3 separate regions of the Homo sapiens genome follow, and all the other regions are linked to region 2. Evidence: fine-mapped expression QTL. A gene starts in region 2. Each other region holds a variant in brackets. All regions are shown on one strand. Distances are between the middles of the regions. Region 1 overlaps HSDL2 (hydroxysteroid dehydrogenase like 2). Region 2 holds the start of HSDL2 (hydroxysteroid dehydrogenase like 2). Region 3 overlaps HSDL2 (hydroxysteroid dehydrogenase like 2).

Region 1 (10,921 bases), 24 kb before region 2:
AGGTGTGAGCCACTGCACTCAGCCTACTTTAGTCTTTCCTAAATTCATAGAGAAAAGGAGCTCCAAATAAAGCTATTTAAAATACTATCGGGCTGGGCATGGTGGCTCATGCCTGTAATCCCAGCACTTTGGGAGGCCAAGGTGGGTGGATCACCTGAGGTAAGGAGTTTGAGACCAGCCTGGCCAACATGGTAAAACCCTGTCTCTACTAAAAATACAAAAAATCAACTGGGCATGGTGGTGGGCGCCTGTAATCCCAGCTACTCAGGAGGCTGAGGCAGGAGAATCGCTTGAACCTAGGAGGCAAAGGTTGCAGTGAGCTGAGATCGTGCCACTGCACTCCAGCCTGGGCAACAAGAATGAAACTCCATCTCAAAAAAATAAATAAATAAAAAATAAAATAAAATACTATTGACTGAATGAAGGACTTTTAGACCCTTATAAGGATTGACTAGATTTTGAACTACACTGTTAATTTGGCTCAAATCTGTTTACAACTATGTAAGTTCCCTGAGAAACACCGCAACTTCCTCCCCAACAACTCTTCTTGCAAACTTACGCAAGGTAGGTGCCTCTGGTGTTCACGTTCATCATCAGATCCAATCTCTTGGTAGGTGTGTCCAATGTATTGGTCAAACTAATGGCACTGGCATTATTTACCAGAATATCAATTCCTGTTTTCAAAATAATCAATTTCATTTTAATGAAAGACTTTTTATCACACACAAAAAAAGCGTTTACTCTCTTGAACCCTCAGTTGATTCACAAATACAGTCATGTACCACACCTAACATTTCAATCAACAATGGCCCATATACGCAACATGGTCCCTTAAGATTACAATACTGTTTTTTTATTTTATCTCTTTTCTGTCTAAGTTTGTTCAGATACATACTTACTGTTGTGTTACAAACGCCTACAGTAGTCAGTACAGTAACATGTTATACAGCTTTACAGCCTGGAAGCAATAGGCTATGCCATACAGCCTAGGTATGTGGTCAGCTAGACTATCTATGTTTGTGTAAGTATACTCTATGTTCATACGATCATAAAATCACCTAATAATGCCTTTCTCAGAACATATCCCCATCATTAAGCAATGCATGGCTATACTTCCTTTAGATAATATGACTAACCACTACCAATGCAAGACTGGTAGCTATTTCAAAATAGCACCTGCATGATTGTCACTAGCACAGTGGAGATATAGCCAATTGCCAGAGCTCCATGTGAAACTACAAGGAGGCTTAGTCTTCGGTGGTTTGTAGCTTCCACTCTTAACTGTTCTCTTACCTCCTGGTTGTCCCTCCCTGTCTCCATAAACCTTGGATCAAATTCCTTAAAGTCTTTCTTCCTCTCTAGCATGAAGTTTCAAAGGCCTGTCCTCCCTCCAAGCATAGTAGTCTCCCTTCCCCCAAGGCCCCTCACTTAAAGGGAAAGGCTCCTTTCTGGTCTTGAGAACTGGGAAAAGAGAAAGACCTACTGTTTCAATCCCAGGCAGATCATCAAAGTGGATCAATTTTGTTTTAGTGACTCATACACACACACAAAAAATAAACCTAGAGTAACTACTATTTCTGCAAATTCTATCTAGTTTCTACCTATAACCAACAAGTTTTGCTTATAGTTATATGCTTAGTGAAATAACATTAAAGGAAAATGGTAAAAATACAAAAACTATGTCAAACATTTTTTCTTTGTTTCTACCTGGTCTTCATTATTCTTTGTGAAGTGTACTTAATGATGGTTGTGTAACAATATAATAAACTTCAATGTCACTGAACTGTACACTTAAAAATAGGATGGTAAATTTTATGTTATGTGTATTTTACCACAATTTTAAAAAATTAAATAATAAATTCAAGGCTGGGGACAGTGGCTCATGCTTGTAACCCCAGCACTTTGAGAAGTTGAGGTGGGTGGATCCCTTGAGGTCAGGAGTTTGAGACCAGCCTGGCCAACATGGTGAAACCCCATCTCTACTAAAAACACAAAAATTAGCTAGGCCTGGTGGTGGGCACCTATAGTCCCAGCTTCTTGGGAGGCTGGGGTTGGAGGATCACCTGAGCCCAGGAGGCCAAAGCTGTGGTGAGCCACGATCATGCCACTACATACCAGTCTGGGTGACAGAGTGAGACCCTGTTTCAAAGAAGAAAAAAAAAAGAACTAAAACTGAATGAATATGGGAGAATGAAAAGCTTCAGCTTTCTCCCCTTACGTCCTCTCCAAAAATTAGTGGATAAACTAATTACATCAAATCCTAAGTGGCACTAGTTAACCACTTTTACTACTAGGTGAAGTCATTTTAGATAAAATATCCTGCATTTGAGCGTGGCACATTTCACATTTAGCGCCCTATCAGTTGGACAAACATCATTTTGCATTTTCTCTCCTCTTCTGACACAGGCATTCACATTTCTTTGGGAAAGGCTGCCGGCTAGGGGTAAGATTTTGGATTTAAGGGAAGAGGCTCCACTTGAGCCAAAGCTCCGTGCTTCAGTCCAGCACCCCACAGCACTCTGCATTGGGATTATAAGTACAGCCTTGCTAACACTGAAGCATTCCCTCATTTTCCACTGGCCATTGTCCCTCACATGTACATATGGTCCTCCAGAACATTAGCGGGGAGAGTGGTAATGGTTTAGGCAGGATTTGGACATGCCTAGGTGCCCTACTATAATACCATGAAAGCCTTAGCTCAATCCCCAACACCTTTTTTCTAGGAACTTTTGAACTAATTGGGGAGAAAAGAAATACTAAGATCTAAAATAGTACAAGATAAGGATCAAATGAATGTTTTAAGAAATCAGAGAGGCCGGGCACGGTGGCTCACGCCTGTAATCCCAGCACTTTGGGAGGCTGAGTTGGGTGGATCATGAAGTCAGGAGTTCGAGACCAGCCTGGCCAATGTGGCGAAACCTGTCTCTACTAAATATACAAAAATTAGCTGGGCATGGTGGCAGGCGCCTGTAATCCCAGCTACTCGGGAGGCTGAGGCAGGAGAATCGCTTGAACCCAGGAGGCAGAGGTTGCAGTGAGCCGAGATTGCGCCACTGCACTCCAGCCTGGGTGACAAGAGCAAGACTCAGTCTCAAAAAAAAAGAAAAAAGAAATCAGAGAAAGAAAAATATAATTCTGATTAGTTGGCATGGTGAGGGAACTGACTTTGTGAAGAAGATGAAATTTAACCACATAAAGGAAGAATTTTTTCAAAAACAAATATATAAGGCACAAGTGCAATTTTCTCACATACATAGATTGTGCAGTGTCCAGGACTTTTAGGGTATCCATCACCCAAACAGCAAACATTGTACCGATTAAGTAATTTCTCTTCATCTACCCCCCTTGCATCCCTTCTTTCTTCCCAGTCTCCACAGTCTATCATTCCACACTCTTTTTCTTTTTTTTTTTTTTCTTTTTGAGACAGAGTCTTGCTCTGTCACCCAGGCTGGAATGCAGTGGTGCAATCTCAGCTCACTGCAACCTCCACCTCCCAGGTTCAAGCAATTCTTCCACCTCAGCCTCCTGAGTAGCTGGGATTACAGGCATCCACCACCATGTTCAGCTAATTTTTGTATTTTTAGTAGAGACGGGGTTTCACCATGTTGGCCAGGCTGGTCTTAAACTCCTGACCTCAAGTGATCTGCCTGCCTCGGCCTCCCAAAGTGCTGGGATTACAGGTGTGAGCCACCACGCCCAGCCTTATCAGATGGTTTTAAATCATGTTCTGTGTGAGCAAATACGTATTTCTCCAAAGACTCAGAAAATTCAAAACTCAAAACAAATTTTTAAATTAACATTATAGTTATACCTTTATTTTACCAATATCCAATAATTTTTTCAGAATGAAGGTATTACCTCCAAATTTCTTGATGGCTTTCTCCACTGCAGCACTGATCTGCTGTTCATCTCTCACATCAACAATACATGGCAAGGCCTTTCCTCCAACTGCTTCAACTTATATAAAGGATACAAAATGAAAAAGCGTTAAAGCATTTAAATATTATACCTTTAATTCCAATATCACAGTCAAAAGAAAAAAGTACCCTGTTTTCAGAAAATCAATATAAATAACTCTATCTTACCACCAGTGACTCTACCATATAGCAGGACAGACTAGCTAGGCTAACACTATTAAAAAACAAAAACGAAGGTTTGGTGGGGGTTTCTTTGTAATTTTTTTAAAAAGCTAAAAAAAGGAAGTTTTTTGTTTGTTTGTTTTTGTTTTTCAGACAGGGTCTCACTCTCTTGCCCAGGCTTGGGTGAAGTGGCACAAACACAGCTCACTGCAGCCTCAATCTCCCAGGCTCAAAGGATCCTCCCACCTCAGCTTCCCAAGTAGCTGGGACTATAGGCATGCACCACCACGCCAGGCTAATTTTTCTATTTTTTGTAGAGACACGGTTTTGCCATGTTGGTCAGGCTGGTCTCGCACTCCTGACCTCAAGTGATCCACCCGCCTTGGCCTCCCAAAGTGCTGGGATTACAGGCTTGAGCCACCTCACCCAGTTGAAAGTAATTTTTAAAAACTTTTTATTGTGGAAATATTCTAAACTATATAAAAATGTAAAGATGCTGTAATAAACTAACAGGAATCCATCACCTATCTTCAACGATTGTTAGTTTTGTCAGTTAATATGTTTATCTTTCCTGTCCCCTGTTTTATTTTTTGCTGGTGTGTTTTAAAGCAAATCCCTGACATCATTTCACTCATAAACACTTCACATGCATTCCTCTAACATAACCACAGTGCTCTGAACATGATTAACAAAACTAGCAATGTCAACTGAACTTGAATTTTTAAGCCCTCTCTCCTGGCTCTGTGCCTAGCGCTATGCCTTAAATAGAAGTATGTGATAATTATTTGTCAACTAAAAGTATTAAAATGATGACTTGCAAATTGTACAGAGAATAAATAACACAGAACGCTTTCTCAAAGAGTTCATGCCACTCACCAATCAAATTCTCTCCTCTCTACTCCACTTCCCTACTCCCCCTCCCATCCAAGAACCACTGCCCTCAAGAACCAAGATTTTTTTTTTTTTAAGAGATGGAGTCTCGCTCTGTCACCCAAGCTGGAGTGCTGTGGCATGATCTTGGCTCACTGCAACCTCCACCTCCCAGGTTCAAGTGATTCTCCTGCCTCAGCCTCCCGAGTAGCTGGGTGAAATTACAGGTGTGAGTCACCACGCCCCGCCATGAAATAAGATTTTTAACTGGAGTTTCTCACATTGCTTAAAAGTGCTGGTGGAGAAAAACGGTCAGAAGCACTGCCCCAAGGTGACAACATAAATACTTCTTTCACTAGATAAAATTATGTTCAGGGTAGCTTTCAAATAGCTTTAACTAAACTCTCCAGCAAATTCTCTATGTATTGAAACCACTAGAAAGACATTTTATCAAATGGCACTGTCACACTCACTTTCTTCAGCAGCAGTATAGATTGTGCCTAGAAGTTTTGGATGTGGCTGGGCGGTCTTTGCAGCAATAACAATATTTGCTCCATCCTTTGCTGCTTTCAATGCAATAGCTTTGCCAATGCCACGGCTTGCACCTGTGATAAAAACTGTACATCCTGCCAGCCTCCTACAACAGAACAAATACGACCTTATTAGAAGACCCAATGTTTTATTTACTGACAGGTATCAGAACCTCATGCATATTTTCATAATATATGTTTCCTCCTCTGTGAAATTTTCTCTAAACCCTCCCCATGCCCATCTGATGGCAGATAACTCCACTATACTCCCATTGCACAATGACTGATAAATTATTTATGACAACTGCAGTTGGCCAGTCTTGCTGTGATTTAGCAAACAAAATCTGTTCAAATGCAAAGCAAATCTTCAAGAGAAATAAAG[A/C]ATTATAAAACAAATTATATAAACATGCATTTTTTTCCCCACAGAAAACGTGTTAATAAAGCTTTTTTTTTTTGAGTGGTGGGATTATGAGCAAATTTTATCACATCCTTTATATTCTTTAATATTTTTCAAAGTTTCCACAATGACTACATACCACTTAAAATAAATTACCTAAAAGCAAATAATTGTTCAATGAATGCTCATAATAGCCAAGGTGGAAACAACTCAAACGTCCATCAGCTGATGAACGGATAAGCAGAATGTGGTGTAGCCACGCATACAATGAAATAATGTTCCGCAATAAAGTACTGCTATGAGCTACAACATGGATGAACCAAAAACATTCTGCTAAGAGGAAGAAACCAGTCATGAAGGACCACATATGATGCCATTTATATGAAATGTCCAGAATAGGCAAACCTATAGAGACAGAAAGATCAGAGGTTACCTAGAGCTGGGAGTGGGAGGGATTGGAGGCTGACAACGGAGGGTTGAGGGGTTTCCTTCTAGGATGATTAAAGGTTTTAAAATTGACTGTGGTGATGGTGGCACAACTCTGTGAATATATTAAAAGCCAATGAATTGCGTATTTTAAATGACTGCATAGTGGGGTACGTGAATCACATCTCAAAAGAGCTGTTAAATAAACAAACGCTCACAAATTGCTGCAGGTTGATCTGAAATATTCTGATTCAAATGTACTGATGGGTCCCTGTGCCCATTTCATTCTTTGTGTGTGTGTGTTTTGTGTGTGTGTGTGTGTTTTTTTTTCTTTTGAGACACAGTCTCGCTCTGTCGCCCAGGCTGGAGTACGGTGGTGCAATCTCAGCTCACTCAACCTCTGCCTCCCGGGTTCAAGCAATTCTCCTGCTTCAGCCTCAAACAATTCTCCTGCTTCAGCCTCCCAAGTAGCTGGGACTACAGGCGTGGGCCACCACGCCCAGCTAATTTTTGTATTTTTAGCAGAGACGTGATTTCACCATGTTGGCCAGGCTGGTCTCGAACTCCTGACCTCGTGATCCACCCGCCTTGGCCTCCCAAAGTGCTGGGATTACAGGCATGAGCCACCGCGCCCGGCTAGCCTGTTTTTTGCTTTTTTTAAATGGAGATGGGGTCTCACCATCTTACTCAGGCTGGCCTTGAACTCCTACGTGCTTTTTTTTTTTTTTAAGACAGCTCTGTTACCCAGGCTGGAGTACAGTGGCGCAATCATGGCTCACTGCAGCCTTGAACTCCTGGGCTTAAATGATCTTCCCATCTCAGCCTCACAAGTAGCTGGGACTACAGGCACACACCACCATACCCAGTTACTTTTTAAAATTGTTTGTACAGACAGGGTCTTGGTATGTTACCCAGGCAGGTCTCAAACTCTTGGCCTTATGTGATCCTCCCACCCTGGCCTCCCCCCATTTCATTAAGTTCACTTAAACTTTCTGCTTACTCAGTGGCTAAGTGAAACGGAGACACCTAAAATAATTTCCTAGTAAACTCATAAAAGAAAAACTAAAAGAATAAAATAAAGATAACAGCAAGGGAAACCCGCTTTCTTATTTACTTTCTAAGGGCAAATTTAAAAGTCTGCTTAAGGAAAAGAATGGAGAAAGAAGAGCAAAAGTGACAATGACAAAGAAAAAGGGATGACCTGAGATTGGTGATAGATTAACAGGTTTGTTAATAAAGGAACATAAAACTCTTGCACGACCCAGAGGATTACACTCCAGAAGAAAGAGATCAGAGGTAAAAGTGGGAAGCGGTTTTAAAATAAGGAATAATTTGTTTGGTAAGAAGGAGGGAGAGTGGAGAAGTGGGGAGAAGTCAGAGAGGTTGAAATTATTTTTCATGAAATATAGCACACATATAAAAAGCATGTAAAACAATGTGTATTGTTTAATGAACAAAATTAAAATGAACAGTAGTATCAAGGCAAGAAATAGAATATTACCAATACCCCAGAAACCAGCCTGTATATTCCTCTCCAACTCTATCCTCCTTCCCTCCCCCACCCCACAGAACGAAAACTACCTTAAATGTTATGCACTCCCTTGTTTTTTCATTATTCCTAGTACCTAGGTCTCTGAGTCTAAATCAACAGTCTGCAAACTATGGCCCCAGGCCAAATCTGACCCACCACCTGTCTGTGTGTGGCCCTGGAGCTAAGATTGATTGTTACAGATGAGTATTTGTGATCAATTCGATGACAAGGAATGCTAATTTTGAATCCCAATTAGGTAAAACATTAGCTCTCTGCTACTTTTTTTTTTTTTTTTTTTTTTTTTTTGAGAGCGGTTCTTGCTCTGTCGCCCAGTCTGGAGTGTGGCTCACTGCAACCTCTGCCTCTGGACTTAAGTGATCTTTCTGCCTCACCACTCAAGTAGCTAGGACTACAGGCGTGCACTACCACACCTGAAAAAGTTTTAATTTTTTGTAGAAACAAGGTCTCACTATGTCACCCAGGTTGGTCTTGAACTGGGCTCAAGCGATCCTCCTGCCTTGGCTTCCCAAAGTGCTGGGATTATTAGCATTAAATTAAGTTCATTTAAACTTTTTACTTACTCACTTGCTAAGTAAGAAGGAGACATCTAAAATAACTTCCTGGTAAACTCATTAAAAAAGAATAAAAGAATAAAATTAAGATAACAGCAAGGGATGTTATCAATCAATAACAGGAAGATAACCCCGGCCTTATCTCCCTGTTATTGATTGAATTGTGTCCCCCAAAAAGCATGTGGAAGTCCTAACTTCAGAAGGTGACCTCAGTTGGAACCAGGATTGCTGAAGATGTAATTAGTTAACATGAAGTCATATTGGAGTAGGCCCTTACTCCAATCGGACAGGTGTCCTTCTAAGAAGAAGGAAGACTATGTAAAGACAGCCACATGGAGAATGTGTGATGACAAAGGCAGAGAGCCTGGAGGGATGCAGCTGCAAGCCCTGAACACAAGGATTGCTGGCCACCCCCAGAAGCTGGGAAGAAGCAAGGAAGGATTCTACCCAGAACTACAACAGCACAGCCCTGCTGACATCTTGATTTCAGAATTCTAGCTTACAGAACAGTGAGAGCATCCATTTGTTTTAAGCCATCCAGTTTGTGGTTCTGTTTGTTTTGTTTTGTTTGAGACGGAGTCTCACTCTGTCACCAGGATGGAGTGCAGTGGCACGATCTTGGCTCACTGCAACCTCCGCCTCCCAGGTTCAAGCGATTCTCCTGACTCAGCCTCCCAAGTAGCTGGGACTACAGGCATGCGCCACCACGCCCAGCCAATTTTTGTATTTTTAGTAGAGATGGGGTTTCACCATGTTGGCCAGGATGGTCTTGATCTCTTGACCTCATGATCTGCCCACCTCGGCCTCCCAAAGTGTTGGGATTACAGGTGTGAGCCACCATGCCCTGCCCAAAGAGGATAATATCCTTACCAGCAGCAGTGAATGAGTATAAGAGTTCCCGTAGCTCCACCACCTCCCCAACACTTGGTAATTTCTGACCTTAAAGTTTTTTCACCAATTCAGTATTATGAAATGATATCCCAAGGTGATTTTCATTTGCACTTCCCCAGTTACTAATGAGGTGGAATATATTTTTGTTCCCATGTTAATGGTCGCTTGTGTTCCTTCTTGTTGCGGGAAGTCAGGGACCCCGAACGGAGGGACCAGCTGGAGCCGCGGAAGAGGAACATAAATTGTGAAAATTTCATGGATATTTATCAGTTCCCAAATAATACTTTTATAATTTCTTATGCCTGTCTTTACTTTAATCTCTTAATCCTGTTATCTTCGTAAGCTGAGGATGTACGTCACCTCAGGACCACTGTGATAATTGTGTTAACTGTACAAACTGATTGTAAAACATGTGTGTTTGAACAATATGAAATCAGTGCACCTTGAAAAAGAACAGAATAACAGTGATTTTTAGGGAACAAGGGAAGACAACCATAAGGTCTGACTGCCTGCGGCATCGGGCAAAAAGAGCCATATTTTTCTTCTTGCAGAGAGCCTATAAACGGATGTCCAAGTAGGCGAGATATTGCTAAATTCTTTTCCTAGCGAGGAATATTAATATTAATACCCTGGGAAAGGAATGCATTCCTGGGGGGAGGTCTATAAACGGCCACTCTGGGAACGTCTGTCTTATGCAGTTGAGATAAGGAGTGAGATACGCTCTGGTCTCCTGCAGTGCCCTCAGGCTTACTAGGGTGGGGAAAAACTCCACCCTGGTAAATTTGTGGTCCAACTGGTTCTCTGCTCTCGAACCCTGTTTTCTGTTGTTTAAGATGTTTATCAAGACAATACGTGCACCACTGAACATAGATCCTTATCAGTGGTTCTGTTTTTGCCCTTTGCCCTGTAATCTTTGTTAGACCCTTATTAGTAGTTCTGCTTTTTGCCCTTTGAAGCATGTGATCTTTGTACCTACTCCCTGTTCTTACACCCCCTCCCCTTTTGAAACCTTTAATAAAACCTTGCTGGTCTGAGACTCAGGTGGGCATCACGGTCCTACCGATATGTGATGTCACCCCCGGCAGCCCAGCTGTAAAATTCCTCTCTTTGTACTGTCTCTCTTTATTTCTCAGCTAGCTGACACAGAAAATAGAAAGAACCTACATTGAAATATTAGGGGTAGGTTCCCCCAATATCTGGCATGCCAAGTGGCTTTTTCCTAAGTGCATGTGGGAACCCGATTCCTTTTGGTACGTGCATAGAAACGTTCATTGGTCCGGTTCACAGAAACGCTTGTTCGGCTCCCTGACAATTGGTGAGTTGTCTGTGTATTGTCCGGGGTAACTATGGGTCACACGAAGTCTAAGCATTATGCTTATCTCTGCTATATTAAACTCCTGTTAAAACAGGGAGGAGTTCAGGTACCTATGGAAAATATGGACATCCTATTCAGGGCAGTGGAAGAACACTGTCCTTGGTTTCCTGAAAAGGGAATGTTAGATGTGGGACTATGGGATCATGTTGGTGCAAAATTCCAGGAACTGGTCCCAACAGGAAATTATGCTCCCGTCACTGTTTGGGGTGATTGGGCCTTGGTAAGTGCTGTCCTAAAATACCAATCCTGT
Region 2 (10,921 bases):
CTTACCTATAGGTGACCAGCTTCATTAATTTCTGGCCTATCATTTTTGTACTTTTTTCAAACATAAGCAAACATATATATATATAAAACACTCTATGTATGTGAAAAACTATCCCTTCCTTTTTTCATACAAAAGGTAGTATACATAAAATATTAAAGTGGTTCTGTTGTTGTTGTTGTTGTGTTTTTCTTTTGACAGTCTTGCACAAGTTTTTCACTACTGCAAGCAAGGCTGTAGACAGGTCGTGGTGACCTAGCCTGCAGAAATGAACTCCAGACACCCCTGAGCAAGGTTAAAAGACGAAAAACAATTTCCTTTACTGTCTCTCTTGTACTATTAGTTATGACTATGTTTGCCAATGCTTGTATTTAGTAAGATTTGCAAAGTTCCTGTTTTTCTTTCGATGCAGCTGCTAGGCCACTAGCTATGCAAGGCCACAGGTTAGTGCCAGGTCAGCAGTTATGCTATGGATTACGTGATTTGTCACTGTAAAATTTACTGCCTTTGTTTTGATCTTGTATGCTGGCCTATATAAGCTAAACTCTGTTTTTGTTCAAGGCTCAGCTTTTTGGATGTGAATCCACTGAGCCGGTGAGTACCTTAAATAAACATCCTCCTGTCTTCCCAATATCGGTCTCTCTGGTCCTCAGTTTACCACAACAGCCTCAACAGCTCATGGCAGCGTCAACCTCCTGGGCTCAAGTGATTCACCTCAGCTTCCCAAGTAGCTGGGACCACAGGCTAAAGTGATTTTTAATGTAAGTATTTACAAGAAAATGTCCCAACTATTGCTGTAAAAAAAAGCCATATCTCTTTGCTTTGAGTATAGCTTGATTGATTCCCAGTAGGAGAAAGGGCATTTTCTTCCTCACTCAGAGTCTCTGGCATTGGCAGAAAAAAAAGCAAACATAACCCTGATCTGTGCCAGTAAGAAGTCCTCCAGCTCCAAAGCATTAGTACCAGAATATAGAAGGCAAGAGCACTTCAAAGAAGGCTCCAAATTTCTTAGTATTATTGATAGATGGCTAAAACTTGCTGATGAAGAGCTAACTTACAGTTTAATTTACTAAAATTCTCTGGTACCCCAAAATCAGGTAAAAGTACTGAAATTTTTAGTAAAAGGAAGAACAACTGTTTCCAAAAAACTATACAAATTATTCTAAACTTCATTTGGAAAAATAAATACCCAAGTATAACCAGGAAAATTCTGAAAAATAATCCAAATGTGGTGGGAACTAGCTTTCCCACATATTAAAACATTTTGTAAAACTAGAGCAATTAAAATAGTTTGGGCTGGGTAGAGTGGCTCACATCTGTAATCCTAGCACTTCGGGGGCTGAGGCAGGAGGATCACTTGAGCCCAGGAGTTTGAGACCAGCCTGGGCAACAAAGTGAGACTCCTCTACAAAAAAATTTTTTAAAAATAGCCAGGCATTATGGCGCATGTCTATAGTCCCACCTAATTGGGAAGATGAGCTGGGAGGACTGCTTAACCCCAGGAGATCAAGGCTGCAGTGAACTATGATGGTGCCAATGCACCCCAGCCTGGGTGACAGAGCGAGGCCCTGTCTCAATTAATTAATTAAGTAAACAGTCTGGTACTGGTACATGAATAGAGACTAAAGTAGCAGAGCAGAAAGTCCAGAAACAGAGCGCTATATGTGCAAGAATTTAATATACAACAGAGGTAGAATTTCGAGCAGAAGAGAAAAGATTAACTCTTAGGTCAATGCTGCTAGGACAAATGAGCAGCCATCTGAAGAAAAATCAAGTGGGCTTCCTAACTCACTTCCTGAAAGAAATCTCAGGGGGATAAAAAAATCTGACTATAAAAAATATAGACAATACAAATATATTTGAAAAATACAAAAATATAAGACCATAAAAATATCAGAAGAAAACTAATTATAAAAAGATCTGCCCAGGCACGGTGGCTCACACCTGTAATCCCAGCATGTTGGGATGCCGAGTCAGGAGGATTACTTGAGGTCAGGAGTTTGAGACCAGCCTGGCCAACATGGTGAAACTCCATCTCTACTAAAATTACAAAAATTAGCCGGCATGGTGGTGTGCGCCTGTAATCCCAGCTACTTGTGAGGCTAAGGCAGGAGAACCACTTAAACCTGGGAGGCAGAGGTTGCAGTGAAACGAGATCGCACCACTGCACTCAAGCCTGGGCAACAGAGCAAGATTCCATCTCAAAAAAAGAAAGACAGAAAGAAAGATCTCGGTTTAACTCAAAGGCATACAGAGCAAGATTCCATCTCAAAAAAAAGAAAGACAGAAAGAAAGATCTCGGTTTAACTCAAAGGCTTACAGAGCAAGACTCCATCTCAAAAAAAAAAAAAAAGATCTTGGTTTAACTCAAAAATGCAAAAGCCTTAAGAGACTGATAACTCTGGCTTCACAAAAACATGTTTCTCCATGTTAAATAAACAGTATAATCAAAGTCCAGATGCAACATGAAAAACTGTGGAAAATATTTGTAATGTGATAAAAGACAAATTTTTAAAATACACAGAGCCCTCAGAGATTAACGAAAAACCTCATTTGTTAAGCCAGACAAATATAAAGATACATAGATGGCTTTAAACCAGGGTTTCTCAACCTCTGCACTACTGACCTTTTGGACTACATAATTCTTTGTTGTACGGAATGCTTGTGAATTGTAGGATGTGCACCAGCATCCCTGTACTCTACTCACGAGATGCCATTAGCATCTCCATTCAATTGTGACTATCAAAAATGTCTTGAGATATTACCAAATGTCCTCTGGGGATCAAATTGTCCCTGGTTTAAATACACAAAGAGATCCAAATCCACACTTGTGATAAAATAAATGCAAATTTTAACAATAATGAGGTGACACTTTTTTCTCTAATTAGATTTTCATCATTAACTATTTTGCGGTTAGCCAACAAGTGGGATTAGAGGATCTCATTTATCCTTTTGGGTGTGCAACCCTTCTGGGGGGTCATCTGGAAATATCTGTCAAAATATAAAGTGCATTTCCTCTTTTTTCTTTTTGAGACAGACTCTCACTCTCTCTCGCAGGGTGGAGGGCAGGGCAGTGGCATGATCTCGGCTCACTGCCACCTCCGCCTCCAGGTTCAAGCGGTTCTCCTGCCTCAGCCTCCTGAGTAGCTGGGATTACAGGTGCCCGCTACCAGGTCCAGCTAATTTTTGTATTTGTAATTTTTGTAATTTTGTAGTTTTAGTGGAGACGGAGTTTCACCACGTTGGCCAGGCTGGTCTCGAACTCTTGACCTCCAGTGATCCGCCCGCCTCGGCCTCCCAAAGTGCTGGGACTACAGGCGTGAGCCACTGTGCCCAGCCACATTTACTCTTTGATCCAGCAATTTCACTTCCAGGAGTTTATCCTACATATACACTTATATATGTGCAAATAGATAAATACAAGTATAATTATGGAAGCAAAAAAAGAGTATCCAAAAAACTGGAAACAGTCTAGTATCCAACAATAGGGAACAGGTTAAATAAACAAAGGTATATTCATATACAGGTTGAGCAAACCAAATCTGAAAATCTGAAATCCGAACACGTCTGGAACCAAGCATTTTGGATAATGGATACTCAAGCTGTTACAGAATATTATGCAACCATTAAAAAGGAGGAGGGGCCAGGCGCAGTGGCTTACGCCTGTAATCCCAGCACTTTGGGAGGCCGAGGCAGACGGATCACGAGGTCATGAGATTGAGACCATCCTGGCTAACATGGTGAAACCCCGTCTGTACTAAAAATACAAAAAAATCAACAGGGCGTGGTGGCACGCGCCTGAAGTCCCAGCTACTCGGGAGGCTGAGGCAGGAGAATTGCGGGAGGCGGAGGCTGCAGTGAGCCGAGATCATGCCACTGCACTCCAGACTGGAAGACAGAGCGAGACTCCATCTCAAAAGAAAAAAAAAGGAGGCGGAAGATCTGCCATGTACTAAAAATGTATGTCCCTGGGCACAGCGGTGCATGCCTGTAATCCTAAATACTCCAGAGGCTAAGAAGGGAGGAACATCAGCCTGGGAGTTCAAGGCTACAGGCCAGTCTGGGCAACATGGGAGACCCCGTCTTTAAAAAAAACAAAGAAAGAATGTCCCAAGACATACCAACTAAAAGTAGCAAGACCAAGAATAGAGTCTGCTGCTATTTTTAAGAAAGGGTATGTGTGTGTGTGTGTGTGTGTGTGTGTGTATCCGGATGTATACAAATTATGTTCATACATGCACGAAATAGAAACGTAAGTAACTGGGGAACTAGATTTTAGGGATGGGGAGACTCACTTTTTACCCTATACTCTTTGAACTGTTTTAAGTCTTTGGCTATATGCCTGCATGTTTCAGGCAAATTACAAAATCTGACAACACGTCACTCAACTCAAGATACCCAGACCTTACATAAACCAGAAAGTAGAATGGTGGTTGCCAATGTACGAGCGGAGGTGGGGAAGAGGAGTTGTTTCATGGATAGAGTTTCAGCTTGCAGATGAAAAAAGTTCTGGAGATTGACTGCACAACGATATGAATCTACTTAACACTACTGAAGTGTACACTTAAAAAACGGTTAAGATGGCAGATTTTGTACGTATTTTAACACAATTTTTTAAGGTGAAAAAAAAATCCCCCAAAGATACCCATGTTTTAAGATCGGTTTAGTTTCTAATTTGGAAATCATTTTTTAAACACTCCATTATTACTCTAGAATTGAGCGTCAGGAACAAGTGAAAACTCTTTAAACTCTGGAGCTGCTCCTGCGACCTTTCACCTAGAACTCACACGCATTCGGCCAGGCACGCACTCCTGCTAAACTCAGGGAGGGCCGGCACTGGGGGCGGCGTGGTGACTCCCCCTCGGCCCTTTACCCGTGGAAAAGGTTTCTACACTGCTGCCATCCTGTAATACAAAAGTTTGTGTTCCTTTTCACACGTTACCGCAGATTCTCGGTGCACAGTGCCCAGCGCGGACCAGAGCTCAGAGCGTGCCCAGGCAGTATCCTTGACCTCCCACAGCCGGGCCGGCCAGCCCGGGCGATCCGCGGCGGCCCCACCGAGACGCGCCCTTCGCCCGACAGGGTCTCTCCCCGCGCCGCCCCTACCCCCTTACCCGGTGTTGGGTAACATGACTTTCGTAGATCAGAGGAGGTGGCGGCGACAGCGGCGGCGGCGAGCAGAGAGCTAAAGCTGGACCGTCCCTCCGCATTTATCCCCGCCCCTGCCCCGCCCCTGCCCCCCCCGATGCCTGTGCGGGAACTGCGCGCGGAAAAGCCGGGATCGCCGAGTGCGCCTGCGTATGCAGTGGGCCTCCTGCGCCCAGCGTTCCTCTTCGTCGCCTCCCAAGCCTGGTCCCTGATTGCAGGCTCTCCGCGCAGGCGCTTTGAGGCACAGCTCCGCCCCGCCCCCTCACTGGTCGTACGGTGACAATCAGGCTCCTGTCGGCGCCTAGCGTCTGGGCAGCGTCAGCCGCTACGTCCACCTTTTCCCTGTCTCTAGGGGTTTCTCCTCGCGCCGCTGTGTTCCAGCGCCGGCTCCGAGCTGGGAGGGTGACTGAGCCCTGAGCTTGGGCCCTCCGAGAGGTGCGTTAGCTCTGGGTCTTCTTGCCCCTACGCCCGAGCCTGGCGTTCTCTCGGCCCCCTCTTAGGAACGCTAGCCCTGGGCAGAAATTGCCTTTGTGGCTGAAGTCGGCCAGCGTCGCGTTTCCACTCTCCCGCCGAATCTGGACCCAAGCCAGCCTTCCCTTGTGCATCGGTAGATAGCTTGTGTTAAGGCGCCAGCTTCTTGGAACAGAGCTCTCTGCAAAAGTCGCGCTGAAGAATTCATAGTCAAAAGCTGAACTTGCAGAAGTTTCTACTTCTGGAATGAGTGTTGAAATGAGATCAATTCTGACATTCAGTTTCGCTTTTGGGATTATGCCTTGGACTAACTCAGCTACTCTGATGAGCTAAAGACTGTAGTATATTTGAAGGAAGACACGAGGAACTGTTTTGTATTTTGTAGGGATAGAACAGGACCTTGAGGAGATTATTATATGAAGACTAGTTAAAGAAACTAGCCTGGAGATGGCTTATGTACTCTCTCCTTTGTTTTTGTTTTGTTTTTTGAGACGGAGTCTCGCTGTCGCCCACGCTGAAGTGCAGTGGCGCGGATCTCGGCTCATTGTAACCTCCGCCTCCCGGGTTCAAGTGATTCTCCTCCCTCAGCCTCCGGAGTAGCTGGGACTACAGGCATGCATCACCACGCCTGGCTAATTTTTTTGTGTTTTTAGTAGAGACGGGGTTTCGCCATGTTGGGCTGGCTGGTCTCGAGCTCCTGACCTCAAATGATTGGCCCGCCTCGGCCTTCCAAAGTGCTGGGATTACAGGCGTGAGCCTCCGCGCCCGGCCTCTCTCCCCTTTGTTATGGGCCCTAAATGACTCTATTTCCTCCTGCATATCACCTGCCCGACTCCTGTAGGCATTTGAATTGATGATTCATGATACGGTCTTTAGAGGCTCCAGAGGAATTTGCAAATTATTATCATCCACTAAGTGATTGCTGATTACCTGAGATACAGCAGCTCAAAAAGGACAAGGTCTCTGCCTATGGGAGGTATGAGTAGCCAGTGTGTTCTTTAGACTGTTGTTAAGCATTAGGTGTTTTAAGAAGAGTGTTGATAGAGACTGTTAGATGAAAATAACTTACTCTCCTCTCATCCTTAGGAGCACTTGCTGAAGCGTGTATATATCTGTCGAATAGAGTGAATTCTTAGTAACGGGGTGACATTTCCTTCATATCATCTAAAATGTTCTCTCCTTTTTGAAAGCCACAATATCTTCAGTCTGTTAGAGCCTCCTTTCTTGAATTTGTGTGCTTCTATTTCCATTTGTTACGGAAAGAGAGCTCAACGAAGAGGCAAAGCAAACAAAAAACCTTTGCCAATTTTTCAGTCATAACGATATTTTGTGAGCCTAAATACCTGTACTTACACTATTTTTATACTTTGCGATGGCTTTCACAGAAGGCAAATATATTCCTAAATTATTAGAGGTAGTTTTACCAAGCAAGTTTAAATCCATTGTATTCAGTACTTTGACTAGAGTTCATTTAAAGTGTGATTTGGAGTTACCCATGACCTTCTACCCCATTACCTTGATTAACCTAGTGTTAGATTAATGCTAGAGGTGAGGAATGGGTGAAGGAGAGGACTTGTGAACATAATTAGATCTTCATTTTGGAAGGTGAATAATTTTGGCTTAGAACACTTCTGACTGCAGCATGAAGAATAGTTTGTGAGTAGATAAAGGCACAGAAGCCATTTAAAAGCCCATAGTAATGTAATGTGTAAGAAAAGTAGTAACCTGAACTAAGGCAGTAATAGTAGAAATGAAAAGACATACTCAAGATATGGAACCTGGCAGATGTAACTAATGATTAGATGTAGGAGCAAAGGGGGAAGATGGTATCAGTGGTGACCTTCAGATTTCTGGTGTAAAGTCCTGGGAGGATGGTGATAACACAGTAAAGAAGTGAAAACAAATGGTTTGAAAAATAGATGTCTTGAAAGTCAGGTAAGTCTCACTCATTTCACCCCTTCTCAGCTTGATAAAACTACCTAAAAATGCAACAGTTTCCTGACAGACTACTGGTTACAACACATTCTCCCAACCAATTTATATCCCTTAAGTTTTGGTTATATGCAACATTAATGTAATTTGGCTAATTTAAACCAAATTAAAGGGGTTGGAGAATTTAGAAGAATTCTGGGATAGTTTATATAACTTAAGGAAGAGCTGAACAACTAAGCTTGACAATGGGAACTAAGGTGCTTCCATGATCCTCAGCAGCATGATCTTTCTAGAATGCATTGTAGGTGGCTTCCCTGTCTTTTCTGTGTATCTGTTCAAGCTTCAAATACTAAGACAGTCTAGTACAATGTGTTTCGTTTTGTTTTGTTTTTTTGAGATAAGATCTTGCTCTGTCACCCAGGCTGGAGTGTAGCAGCATGATCATGGCTCACTGTAGCCTCAACCTCCTGGGCTCAGCCACCCAAGTAGCCAGGACCACGGGCATGTGCCACCACACCTGGCTAATTTTACTTTTTATAGACACAGGGGTCTCACTATGTTGCCCAGGTTGGTCTTGAACTCCTCACCTCAAGCAATCCTCCCACCACACAGCCTTCCAAGGTGCTGGGAAATGTTTCAACCTGTAAATTAGTTGGCCATGGCCAGGGACACAAGTGGATATGGACAATGGGGAAGTAACACAACATTGCATACCTACCTACCCCAGGTCATGGAAGTTGCGTAAATGTAGAGCAAGTAAATTGGCATTCATAATTCTGGGAAGAAAGGGGTCATAAAACTTTTTATTTCATAGGGCTTGTGATGGTTAATACTGAGTGTCAACTTGATGGTATTGAAGGATGCAAAGTATTGGTCTTGGGTGTATCTGTGAGGGTATTGCCAAAGGACATTAACATTTGAGTCAGTGGGCTGGGAAGGGCAGACCCACCCTTAATCTGAGTGGGTACCATCTAATCAGCTGCCAGTGAATATAAGACAGGCAGAAAAACCTGAAAAGATGAGACTGGCCTAGCCTCCCAGCCTACATCCTTCTCCTGTGCGTTTATCCCCTTCTTGCCCTCCAACATCAGACTCCAGGTTCAGTTTCGGGACTTGGACTGGCTCTCCTTGCACCTCAGCTTGCAGATGGCCTATTATGGGACCTTGTGATCATGTGAGTTAATACTTAATAGGCTGGGCGCGGTGGCTTATGCCTGTAATCCCAGCACTTTGGGAGGCCGAGGCAGGCGGATCACAAGGTCAAGAGATGGAGACCATCCTGGCCAACGTGGTGAAACCCCATCTCTACTAAAAATACAAAAAGTAGCTGGGCGTGGTAGCACACACCTGTAGTCCCAGCTACTCGGGAGGCTAAGGCAGGAGAATCGCTTGAACCTGGGAGGCGGAGGTTGCAGTGAGCGGAGACCACGCCACTGCACTCCAGCCTGGTGACAGACCGAGACTCTTTCTCAAAAAAAAAAAAAAAAAAAACTTAATAAACTCCCCTACACACACACACACACACACACACACACACACACACACGTATATAAGGAAGTAATAGGATATATATATATATATATATATCCTCTAGAGAACCCTGACTAATACGGATTTTGGTACCAGAAGTAGGGTCCAGAACAGGAGAAGGCTCTGCAACAGGTCCAGGCTGCTGTGCAAGCTGTTCTGCCACTTGGGCCATATGACCCAGCAGATCCAATAGTGCTTGAGGGATGAGTGGCAGATAGGGATGCTATTTGGAGCCTTTGCCAGGCCACCATAAATGAATCACAGTGGAGGCCTCTAGGATTTTGGAGCAAGACCCTGCCTTCTTCTGCAGATAACTACTCTCCTTTTGAGAGACAGCTCTTAGCCTGTTACTGGGCTTTGGTGGAAACTGAACGTTTGACTATGGGTCATTAAGTCACCATGTGACCTGAACTGCCTATCATGAACTGGATGCTTTCTGACCCATCTAGCCATAAAGTGGGTCGTGCACAGCAGTATTCCATCATCAAGTGGAAGTGTTATATGCATGATTGGGCTCTAGCAGGTCCTGAAGGCACCTGAGGAATAAGTTACATGAGGAAGTGGCTCAAATGCTCATGGTCTCCGCTCGTGCCACCCTGCCTTCTTTGCCCTAGCCTGCACCAGTGGCCTCATGGGGAGTTCCCTATGATCATGATCAGTTGACATGATCAGTTGACAGAGGAAGAGAAGACTAGGGCCCGGTTCACAGATGGTTTTGCATGATACGCAGGCATCATCTGAAAGTGGACAGCTGCAGCACTACAGCCCCTTTCTAGGACATCCCTGCAGGCCAGCAATAAAGGGAAATCTTCCCAGTGGGCAGAACTTCCAGCAGTGCACCTGGATGTGCACTTTGCATGGAAGGAGAAATGGCCAGATGTATGATTATACACTAATTCATGGGCGGTAGCCAGTGATTTGGCTGGATGGTCAGGGACTTGGAAGAAGCAAGATTGGAAAATTGGTGACAATAAAATTTGGGGAAGAGGTATGTAGATGGACCTCTCTGAATGCTCAAAAACTGTGAAGTGCTAACCAACGGGTGACCTTAGCAGAGGAGGATTTTAATAATCAAGTGGATAGGATGACTCGTTCTGTGGACACCACTCAGCCTCTTTCCCCAACCACCCCTGTCATCATCCAGTGGACCCGTGAACAAAGTGGCCATGGTGGCAGGGATGGAGGTTATTCATGGGCAACAGGGACTTCCACTCACCAAGGCTGACCTGGCTACAGCCACTGCTGAGTGCCCAATTTGCCAGCAGCAGAGACCAACACTGAGCCCTCAATATGGCACAGTTCCTCATGGTGATAAGCCAGCTACCTGGTGGCAGGTTGATTATATTGAACCTCTTCCATCATGGAAAAGGCAGAGGTTTGTCCTCACTGGAATAGACACTTACTCTGGATATGGGTTTGCCTATCTTGTACACAATGCTTCTGCCAAGACTACCATCCATGGACTCACAGAATGCCTTATCCACTGTCGTGGTATTCCACACAGCATTGCCTCTGAACAAGATACTTACTTTATGGCTAAAGAAGTGTGGCAGTGGGCTCATGCTCATGGAATTCACTGGTCTTACCATGTTCCCCATCATCTTGAAGCAGCTGGATTGATAGAACAGTGGAATGGCCTTTTGATGTCACAATTACAACACCAACTAGGTGACAATACTTTGCAGGGCTGGGGCAAAGTTCTCCAGAAGGTTGTGTATGCTCTGAATCAGTGTTCAATATATGGTACTGTTTCTCCCATAGCCAGGATTCATGGGTCCAGGAATCAAGGGGTAGAAGTGGAAGTGGCACTACTTACCGTAACGCCCAATGATCCACTAGCAAA
Region 3 (10,921 bases), 39 kb before region 2:
AGGCGCCCGCCACTATGCCCGGCTAATTTTTCTGTATTTTTAGTAGAGACAGGGTTTCACCATGTTAGCCAGGACGGTCTCAATCTCCTGACCTCGTGATCCGCCCACCTCAGCCTCCTAAAGTGCTGGGATTACAGGCGTGAGCCACTGCGCCCAGTCTAATTTTTTTAAAAGATACCATCTAGGCCAGGTGTGGTGGCTCACGCTTGTAATCCCAGCACTTTGGGAGGCCAAGGCAGGAGGATCATCTGAGGTCAGGAGTTCGAGACCAGCCTGGCCAACATAGTGAAACCCTGTCTCTACTAAAAATATAAAAATTAGCTGGGCGTGGGGGCGAGTGCCTGTAATCCCAGCCATTCGGGAGGCTGAGGCACAAGAATCGCTTGAGCCTCAGAGGCAGAGGTTGCAGTGAGCTAATTGTGCCACTGCACTCCAGCCTGGGCGACAGAGTGAGACTCTGTCTCAAAAAACAAACAACAACAAAGATACCATCTAGAATTGTAGCTGCCTCAAAACGAGACGGTTAGAAAGTGTTCCCTTCCCTAATGTTCCCATGCTCATATAAGTCCTTTAGAATTCAGGGACTTCTGGCCTGGGGCAGTGGCTCACACCTGTAATCCCAGCACTTTGGGAGGCCGAGGCAGGTGGATCCCTGAGGTCAGGAGTTTGGGACCTGCCTGGCCAACATGGTGAAACCCCCTCTCTACTAAAAATACAAAAATTTGCTGGGCATGGTGGCAAACGCCTGTAAACCCAGCTACTCAGGAGGCAGAGGTTGCAGTGAGCCGAGATTATGCCACTGCTCTCCAGCCTGGGCGACAAGAACGAAACTCCGTCTCAAAAAAAAGAAAAGAAAAGAATTCAATGACTTCCACATTTCCCTCTTCCCCAAATTCCAGGTTTTGAAGACAGTGTAGTGCTTTTGGCTAGAGACAATTATTAAACTTTTCTCTTATCTTGTCTCTTCAATATAGGGAGTTGTTATTTGGTACTTGTATTTCATATTCCCAGTTATTCTATATAATCCATGTACATTTGACCATATATTAAATGTACTACAGGTTTATTTGCCAGCCATTATTTTCTCTCCTCTTTTTTCTGACTCCTATCTTGAAAACTCTCTGTTCTGACAGATTTGCTGCTTGGTTAACAGCCCTTTCTACAAGACTCTTCTCAAGTGTGGTAGCATATCCACATATCTTCCCTTCATCTTGTCAATAAGTAACTATCTTGGCTGAGTCCCTTTGTATCAGCAACGTACAGATGTTATTCCACTGCCTTCTAGTTTCTGGCATTGAAGATAAAAGAGTCTGCAATCATTTTCCTTTGTAAGTAACATATATTCTGCCTGAAGGCTTGGAAGATTTTTTTATCCTTGAAATTCTGAGGTTCTCCCAGATGTCTTTCTCCCCCTCATAAATTCAGCCTCAAATTTGGTAAACCTTTTAGTTTACATCCATATCGGTCTTTCTTCAGCTCAAGGGAACTGTTTCCTATTATTCATTCAATTATTGTTTCTCCTCTATTTGTTCTCTTTCCAGACCTCCTTCTGGGACTCCTGGTATTTGCATGTGAAGTTCCCCGGATGTGTCTTCTAAGTCTCTCTCCATTTACTTCAGGGTGTTTCTGCTCTTCTGAGATACTTCTTGCACTAGAATATCCAAGCTGCTTACCCAGGTGTTACTCAACATCCAACCCTTCAACTATTACATACATATATATGTATATTTTAAAAACACAATCTATTTTTAGTTCCAGAGAGCATTTTTCATATTATATTTCAATCTCTTATGTCAGGATTTTTGTTTTTAAATTGAGATATTTTTTCTTTAACAGTTTGATTTCACTGAAAACTGCTATTCTGGGTGTTGGTGTTCTGTTTATTTTTTCCATGTCTGGATATTGGGTCCTCTTAGCTGTACTGCAATTTTTCTTTGTTTCCTTATAGCACTGTTCACCCTTATATAGTTCGTTTGTTTGTTTGTTTTTTGAGACAGTCTCACTCTGTCGCCCGGGATAGTTTAAATGATGCCAGCTTTGCCAGCAGTAGTAAGTTATCATATCAGATATACCAGTCACTGAATCTATTTTGGGACTTGAAGAAGTCTCTGAGGTCTCCTCACTTCCACTCCTCAAGGATAGGAAATACTTATCTTGCCTGTTGAGTCACCCTGTTGAATCCTCAGATCTCCGTGGTCAAAGCCCTTCTGAGTATCTGTTCTTTCTCAAGTTCTCTCACCTGGCTCCATTCTGTCCTCTAGCTCAGAGAGAACAGTCTTTCACAAGCTTCTCAAGTTCCTTCTCTTACAGAATCAAGTCTTACTCATTCCTTCATAGGCTCACCTGCCCACCGTCCTAGCAGCTGCTCCAATCAGGGGAAAGGGAGGGACGGCAGGGACATGAATTCCAGTAGTCATCTAGAAACCCCCTCTGCCGGCAAATTCAGTGAAAAAGATTCCAATTTGCCATCAGTAGAAATGTTTTCAAAAATGTAATAAGGCCGGTGCAGTGGCTCATGCCTGTAATCCCAGCACTTTGGGAGGCCGAGGAGGATATATCACTTGAGGCAAGAAGTTCAAGACCAGCCTGGCCAACATGGCTAAACCCCCTTTCCACTAAAAAAAACTACAAAAATTTTTTTTTAAATGTAATGAAGAATATGAAGACTTTCCAAAGGAATCCAAAAATATCATGCATTTACAAAGATCTGAGTGACTATTACGGGCAGAGCACTACCCTAGGAGCAGAAACACCAGTATTGATTCCTAAGGTGGTTCCTCGTAGAGGGGCCATGTTGATTTTCTGTTTAAATTCCAATGTGAGTATAATCAAGTTTCTGTTCAATTTTTGTTTGTTTGTTTTTTTGAGACAGGATCTCACTCTGTCCTGTCTCAAAAGGCTAGAGTACAGTGGCATGATCACGGCTCACTACAGCCTTAATCTCCAGGGCTCAAGCAATCCTACAATCTTAGCCTCACGAGAAGCTGTGACCACAGGCATGCTCCACTGTGCCCAGCTAACTTAATTTTTTGTAGAGATGGGGTCTCACTATGTTGCCTAGGCTGGTCTTGAACTCCTGGGCTCAAGAGATCCTCCTGCCTCTGCTTCTCAAAGTGTTGGGATTACAAGCACGAGCCACTGCAACTGGCCTGTTACATTTTTAAAGAGTGAAATGAAAAAGTGGTTCCCACTATGCATTCTCTTTTTTTGTTTGTTTTTTAACCCACTTCCTGTTTAGGAAAAAAAAAAATTACCAGCGCTCATTTAATTTTACATAAACACACACGTTGAGGCTGAAGCAAATCTGACTGATTTTCAATGTGAAAACATAAAAGTTATTGAGTTATTTCTAAACAGAACTTGTCTCTAACCCTAATGTAACAGAAATGTATATGATGTTACATTAGAATTAGAGACGAGTATTCTCGGGACAAATGGGAAAACCCTAATGTAACAGAAATGTATATGATGTTACATTAGAATTAGAGACAAGAGTATTCTCGGGACAAAGGGGAAGTGGGTTAGTTGAGACAGGGTCTCACTCTGTCGCTGAGGCTGAAGTGCAACAGCATGACCATGGCTCACTGCAGCCTTCAACCCCCGGACTTAAGTGATCCTCCCATCTCAGCTGGGGCCATAGGTGTGCACCACTACACCTAGCTAGGTTTTTTTTGTGTGTGTTTTTTTTTTTAAGAGGCCTCACTATGTTGCCCAGGCTGGTTTCAAACTCCTAGCCTCAAGTAATCCTCCCATCCAATCTCAGCCTCCCAAAGTGCTAGGATTACAGGAGTGAGGCACCACACCCAGTCCCTCTGCATACTGTTTATCATTAGACATACTTTTCTGCGATGTGATTGCCATTTACATATTTTGTTGCTGTTGTTGAGACAGGGTCTTGCTCTGTTACCCAGGATGGAGTGCAGTGGTCCAATCTGGGTTCACTGCAACCTCTGCTTCCAAAGTTCAAGTGATTCTCATGCCTCAGCCTCCCAAGTAACTGGCTAATTTATCCTATTTTTAGTAGACACGGGGTTTTGCCATGCTACCCAGGCTTGTCTCAAACTCCTGGCCTCAAGTGATCTGCCCATCCTGGCCTCCCAAAGTGTTGGGATGGCATGAGCCATCTGTAACCACACCCGGCACCATTTACACTTAAGATAAAAAGAAGTTAAGGTTTTCATGGGCATTACCCACTAGTACATGGAAAAATGTGTAGTGAAATGTTATC[G/A]TCTCTTTTTCTTCCTTTAAGCTACTCTGATATACAAGCAGAGGGTAAGAACCTATAAGAAAGACAGGCTTTCCTTTTTTCTCATTTTTGCTGGCTTTCCCTCATTTTTATATATCTTATTGCCCAGCAAGGAAGCCATCAACTTCTGTTATATCATAACTGTAAATTTGCACACCAAGCCCAGGCATACACAGGTTCTTCTGTCATCTCACAGGGTTCCAGGTACTCTGTGAATTCAGAAGAATTCATGTGAAAGGAAAGATAATCCAGCTTTTTCTAAAGGAAAAAGACAAGGCCAGTAAGAATACAAAAATGTTAAAAAGCATTTGTTAGAATGTGTGAGGAGAAAACAAAAGTATGAGAATCTGCAGAATTTAGGTAGTTTCCAGAAACAAAGATGGAGAAAGAGTTGGGGAAGTGCAGCTTCTCCTGTTGGCCTTCAAAAGATTCTTAAAGTGTTCCGGTGGTCAATGTTCCTACAAAGGCTATTGGCTGAAGAGTCACTCATGTAGTCTAAGCCAAGGCAGGAAGATGATTGAAAAGGATCTTATGTTGTACAATAAAAAGTTGAACTTGTTTCCCAACAAACAGATTGAAGTTAGTATTAACAGTCTACATACTCTCACCCTATCATACCCAAGATGCACCTCAAGAGTGTCAAGGACAGGCCGGGCGTGGTGGCTCATGCTTGTAATCCCAGCACTTTGGGAGGCCAAGGTGGGAGGATCACTTGAGGAGTTCGAGACCAGCCTGGCCAACATGGTGAAACCCTGTCTCTACTAAAAATACAAAAATTAGCCAGGCATGGTGGTGTGCACCTATAGTCCCAGCTGCTTGGGAGGCTGAGGCACAAGAACTGCTTGAACCCAGGAGGCAGAGGTTGCAGTGAGCCAAGATCACACCACTGCACTCCAGCCTGGATGACAAGAGTGAGATTCTGTCAAAAAATAATAATAAGTGTCAAGGACAATACATGAAAATCTAACAAATGAAGTTTTTAAAAATACATACCTGTTTTAGGCCATAATGCATTGACTGCAATTTCACCTTTAAATTCTTCTGCCATTCCAAGCACATACATAGACATACCATACTTAGCAATGGTATAAGCTGAAAGAACCACAAAAAATAATAATTTAATTATAAAAGAAATTAATTTGATTAACTTGTGAGTAGAAATAACCAATTTTTCTATTACTATTTTCTTCCTGATATATGTGTGCATGTATGTATATACATATGTATGTGTATATATCTGTGTGTATATACATATACATGTGTATATATATGCATATACATACAACACACCCACGCACACATATATATCAGGAAGAAAATAGTAATACACACATATATACACACACATACATATATACATATATATACACATACTTTTTTTTTTTTTTTGAGACAGGCTGGAGTGCAGTGGTGTGATTACGATTCACTGCAGCCTCTACCTCCTGGGCTCAAGCAACCCTCCCACCTCAGCCTCCCGAGTAGCTGGGACTATGGGTGTGTGCCACCAAGCCTGGCTAATTTTTCAATTTTTTTGTAGAGACAGGGTTTTGCACGTTGCCCAGCCTGGTCTTGAACTCCTGGGCTCAAGCAATCCACCTGCCTTAGCCTCCCAAAGTGCTGGGATTACAGGTACGAGCCACCGTACCCAGCCTCCCTGATATATTTTTGAGAATTCTTTTCAATAATATAAAATATAACTTTTCACTGTACTATTTTGTAAAGAACAGGTTTTATAGAAGTGAACAGAGATGAAATCATTTTATATATCTCCCTCCTAATATTTGATTAAAATAAAAGTGACAGTAATAAACTTTCATTTTTCTTAATACTATGAGGGTAAATTACATTATTATCTCTTAATATGTTTCTTTTTTTGAGATACAGTTTCACTCTGTTGCCCAGGCTGGAGCACAGTGGTGCAATCTTGGCTCACTGCAAACTCCACCTCCCAGGTTCAAGTGATTCTTGTGCCTCATCCTCCGAGTAGCTGGGATTACAGGTGTGCACCACCATGCCCAGCTAATTTTTGTATTTTTAGTAGAGATGGAGTTTCACTATGTTGGCCAGGCTGGTCTCAAACTCCTGACCTCAAGTGATCTGCCTGTCTCGGCTTCCCAAAGTGCTGGGATTACAGATATGAGCCACCATGCCTGGACTTTTTTTTTTTTTTAAGAATGAAAGTGTTTATTTAAAGGGAAACTACTGCTAGTAAAACAATAATAAAAAAAGGCTGCAAATGTATTTAACCTAGTCAATTAAAGTGGAACTTCTTTCAGTTTTGCTCTGTGGGTTCCCATTCCAAGTGCCTTTCCAAATGTTAGTGAACTGTGCTGAAATAAAAACTAAGTGTTTGATACAACTATTTTAAAGGAGGCATCTATATGTAAATCTTGTTACTTAGCATATTTACCTTAAACCATTAGTTTGCTATGAAAGGTAATAGGGTTTTTTTGTCGTTTTTTTTTTTTTTTTTTAGAGTCAGGGTCTCGCTCTGTCACCCAGGCAGGAGTGCAGTGCCATGATCCTAGCTCACTGCAGCCTCAAACTCCTGGGCTCAAGCGATCCTCCCACCTCAGCCTTTCAAGTAGCTAGGACTACAGGTGCATACCTGTCTAAGAAAAATAAAGTATCTCATAGATAGTTTTTAACCAACTTTATAGATGAATAAATTACACACAGTAAAACACACTCATTGGGAAATGAAAGAGCTTTCTGAAATGGTAAAAATCTGTATCTTGATTTGGGTGTTGGTTATATACATTTCTCAAAACTCATCAAACTGAACCATTAAGAGCTGTGCATTTTATTGAATGTCAATTATGCCTCAATTTTTTAAATTACAGATAAAAGATGAAGAATCTACTTTCCAAATGCCACTTAATGACTTGGCATAGAAAATTCAATGATGAATGTTATGTGCAGATTGTGATTACATCAGACATACACAGATTTAATTCAAAACAAATTAAGCACAAACCATCCCCTCACCCTACCACCTACCACCTACCACAGTGCTGTTTGAACCAAACTGGATTTAGGTTCAGTGGTGGACTGATATTGAGGATATGAGCAACTTTGCTCTTTTTCAAATAAGGAATACATGCTTTAGATCTGAAAGCAAAAGAAAATACAAGCCAAATTTAATAGCTTTCTAACAATTTCTCCACTTTTTTTTTTAAGAGAGGGGGCCTTGCTCTGTTGCCCAGGCTGGAGTGCATGACTCGATCACAGTTCACTAAAGCCTTGAGCTCCTGGGCTCCTGGGCTCAAGCAATCCTCCCACCTCAGTTTTCCGAGTAGCTGGAACTACAGGTGTGCAGCACCACCATGCCCAGCTAATTTCTGTACTTTTTTTTTTTTTTTTAGAGACAGGGTCTAGCTTTGTTGCCCAGGCTGGTCTTGAACCCCTTGGACTCAAGCACTCCTCCTACCTCAGACTCCCGAAGTGCCAGGATTATAGGTTTACAGGTGTGAACCACTGCGACCAGCCAACTTCTTTTTTTTTGTTTGTTTTTTTTTTTAATTTTAAGACAGGGTCTCTCTGTTGCCAGGCTGGAGTGCAGTGGCATGATCACATCTCATTGTAGCCTCTGCCTCCCCAGCTCAAGTGGTCCTCTCACCTCAGCCTCCTGAGTAGCTGGGACTACAGGCATGTGCCAGCATGCCCAGCTACCTGGATAGTTTTTGTAATTTTTTTTTTCTTTTTTTAGAAACAGGGTCTTGCTATGTGGCGCAGGCGTGTCTCAAACTCCTGGACTCAAGCGATCTACCCGCCTCAGCCTCCCAAAGTACTAGGATTACAAGTGTGAGCCATCATGCCGGGCCAATCCACTTTTTTTTTTTTTTTGAGACGGAGTCTGGCTCTGTTGCCCAGGCTGGAGTGAAGTGGCACAATCGCTCACTGCAAGCTCCGCCTCCCGGGTTCATGCCATTCTCCTGCTTCAGTCTCCTGAGTAGCTGGGACTACAAGGCGCCCGCCACCACGTCCGGCTAATGTTTTGTATTTTTAGTAGAGACGGGGTTTCACCGTGTTAGCCAGGATGGTCTCGACTCCTGACCTCGTGATCCACCCACGCTCCGCCAAGATACATTTTAAACTACTCCTACAGAGTAACTGAACTTGCTCAGAAATCTGTAGGGAACTGTTTGTTTGTTTTGTTCATAGGGTACTTTTGTTTGCTTTCTAGAATTAAGACAGAAAAAGCAACTAATTTTCATCCTTTGAAATTCTGCTTAATGGCCTGGCAACATGATCTGCTTGATGGAAAAAAACAAATCCTTGATATACTAGCCTTAAGCCCAACTGAGGTTATCCGCAACCACAACCATCCCAAATTCTGCCTCCCTAACACACATATGTAATTTTCAGAGATAGTTAATATACTTGTCGGTCAGCACAGTGGTAAATAACATGAGTGTTCAAGTCAGACAGACCAGGGTTCAAATTCTGCTTCTGCCCCTTCATTGTGTGACCCTGGGAAAATTGTATAGCATTCTAATGCTCAGTTCTCTCCTCTGCAAATGTTGGTAAAAGTCACTACCTTCTATGATTGACCAAGAGATTAAAATTAGATGATATATATGAGATACTTAGGACAATGTATATACTAAACATGAAATAAACAATCGCTGTTGTTAGTATTATGTATGCTGATTTATTTCATCTTAATAGGCATAGTACTTCTACTACATTGGAACTGTAATTTAGTAATATAACTCTCATTACATTCCCAAATTTAATTTTCACCAATATAAAATATGCCTTTGGGTGCAATACATAGCTTTATTTTTAAAAAGTCACTCATTAAGGTAGGTAATTTATTTAAGATTCAGATTCAATATTTCTAAAATGTTAATTTTTACATAATGTCAGCAGCTAAATAATATATTATAGCTTAATTTATAGCTTTATTTTAGCTACAAATTTAGCTTTCGTTTACATTCAATGACTTCTAGGACTTCTAGGACTCTGAACTTGTCCATTCTTTTTTTTTTCTTTACCCTGAACCAGGAGCTGTGAATGAACTAGTTCATTCTTCTTTCAAGTCAGTTTTTTAATTACCAAATGTACAATACTGGTGTTAAAAACAGCAACATCTTACCAAGCTTACCAAATATAATCAATACCACTAGAGGGGTTTTGGTAGATACTGTTTTCATTTCCAAAGGTGCTTCACTTTTATGGAGGTGAGGTGAGGTGGGGCAAACAATATTACAGCTGAGTTTCATTAAAACAGTGAAACTGCAACTCGAAGCATCAAGAAGAAACAAACTAAATCTACTCCAGTAAATAAGACCATATTTTACACTCAAAGGAAAGAGCTCATTTCATTTACATTCTAAACATGGGCTTTCCTTTGATCTATGGGACAAGACCTTTCCATCTGCACTTTGCTGGCCTGGACCTCAACATTGCTAATCCTACATCAGGTGCATCTGTCACAGTAGCATGCCCTCTTATATATTATATTGAAAACTCTTAGCACCACACTTAGATACTGATACCTTCAGCCGAATAAAATAGTTACGTTTACTGAAAACCTAACTATGTGCCAGACTCTGTTTTTATTACCTTTCATGAATTATTTTACTTACTTGGGGTTTCAAACTCAAAGACCTGTAAGGCATTTGAGTAAATGAATAAAGTGAGTTGGTGTAAAAACTAGAGGTTCCTCTTCAAAGACTTTCCTCCCTGTCTAATTAGGAATAAATAGTAACTTCTCTTAGAAGCAAAATGTATTCAAAGACCCGTACTAACATTCTTAAATATCTGCTAGCCATGATAAAGAAATCAATGTACTTTAAGTTCTTAGCTCCCACAATTTAGCCTAAATATTTGCCCTGGCATGCATATACTGGTCCAAGCAAGCATTAGGTCATAGCCTGTTCCTCTTCCTTATTTGAAGGTGTTTTTACCGTTCTCAGCATTCCACAAGTTACCTCCTCCTTCCTTTGTTCTCCTCTGCCTTTGCCTCTTTTTAAAAAAAGTTCTAAGTTGCTAGCCAACCGGGACAAATACAGAACGTCAGGTCCCGTTCCAGCCAATGGAAACCGGACACAGCAGTAGGGTGGACGCGTCAGGTTATAAATGACCCTGTCTGCTTTGATCGGTGTACTCTTGTGGCAAAACTGCTGGCAAGTATACCCTTTCTGCAGAAAGTATAAAAACGGCCTTGCTGAGTAAATTAAATTTATGTTCAAGTGCTATTTCTTTATGGCACCAGGGAACAAGCATTTCAAACAGCTGGGAATAAGAAAAATCAACTGTTCAGAGATACAACTGAACCTTACTACTAAGCTTCTAAAAGCATTTAACATGATACAAACAATGTAATACTGGAGAGTATATAATAAATTAAATTGAAAAATACAAATTAAAAAAGAAATGTGTTCTGTGAGTTACCAGGGAAGTAAAAATAAAATAAAATAGAAATATTTCTTTTCTTTTCTTTTTTTTCTTTTTTTTTGAGAGGGAATTTCGCACTTGTTGCTCTCGTTGCACTCTTGGAGTGCAATGGCGTGATCTTGGTTCACCGCAACCTCTGCCTCTTGGGTTCAAGCAACTCTCCTGCCTCAGCCTCCCGAGTAGCTGGATTACAGGCGTGTGCCACCACACCTTGCTAATTTAGTATTTTTAGTAGAGACGGGGTTTCTCCATGTTCGTCGGGCTGGTCTC

Evidence for each region. PIP is the estimated chance that this variant, and not a neighbour inherited with it, causes the effect.
Region 1: its variant is the best candidate, but not a certain one, in a credible set for the expression of HSDL2 in whole blood (TOPMed, PIP 0.61).
Region 3: its variant is the best candidate, but not a certain one, in a credible set for the expression of HSDL2 in whole blood (TOPMed, PIP 0.77).

The regions. Positions count from the first base shown.
Region 1 is chr9:112,398,660-112,409,580 of GRCh38, reverse strand. HSDL2 (hydroxysteroid dehydrogenase like 2) reads right to left here. Exons shown (of 11, transcript NM_032303.5): 2 at 5,423-5,586; 3 at 3,859-3,957; 4 at 560-674. Among named protein-coding and RNA genes, the nearest start is that of HSDL2, 24 kb to the right of the region's middle. The variant A/C (reference allele first, on the strand shown) is at 5,862.
Region 2 is chr9:112,374,371-112,385,291 of GRCh38, reverse strand. HSDL2 (hydroxysteroid dehydrogenase like 2) reads right to left here and starts at 5,184. Exons shown (of 11, transcript NM_032303.5): 1 at 5,112-5,184. The coding sequence starts at 5,128. It also overlaps a transcript of PTBP3 not described here. RefSeq lists a silencer at 4,981-5,230 and enhancers at 5,451-5,570, 5,002-5,601, 5,601-5,850, 5,951-6,000.
Region 3 is chr9:112,413,277-112,424,197 of GRCh38, reverse strand. HSDL2 (hydroxysteroid dehydrogenase like 2) reads right to left here. Exons shown (of 11, transcript NM_032303.5): 5 at 7,254-7,357; 6 at 5,240-5,338. Among named protein-coding and RNA genes, the nearest start is that of HSDL2, 39 kb to the right of the region's middle. The variant G/A (reference allele first, on the strand shown) is at 4,229.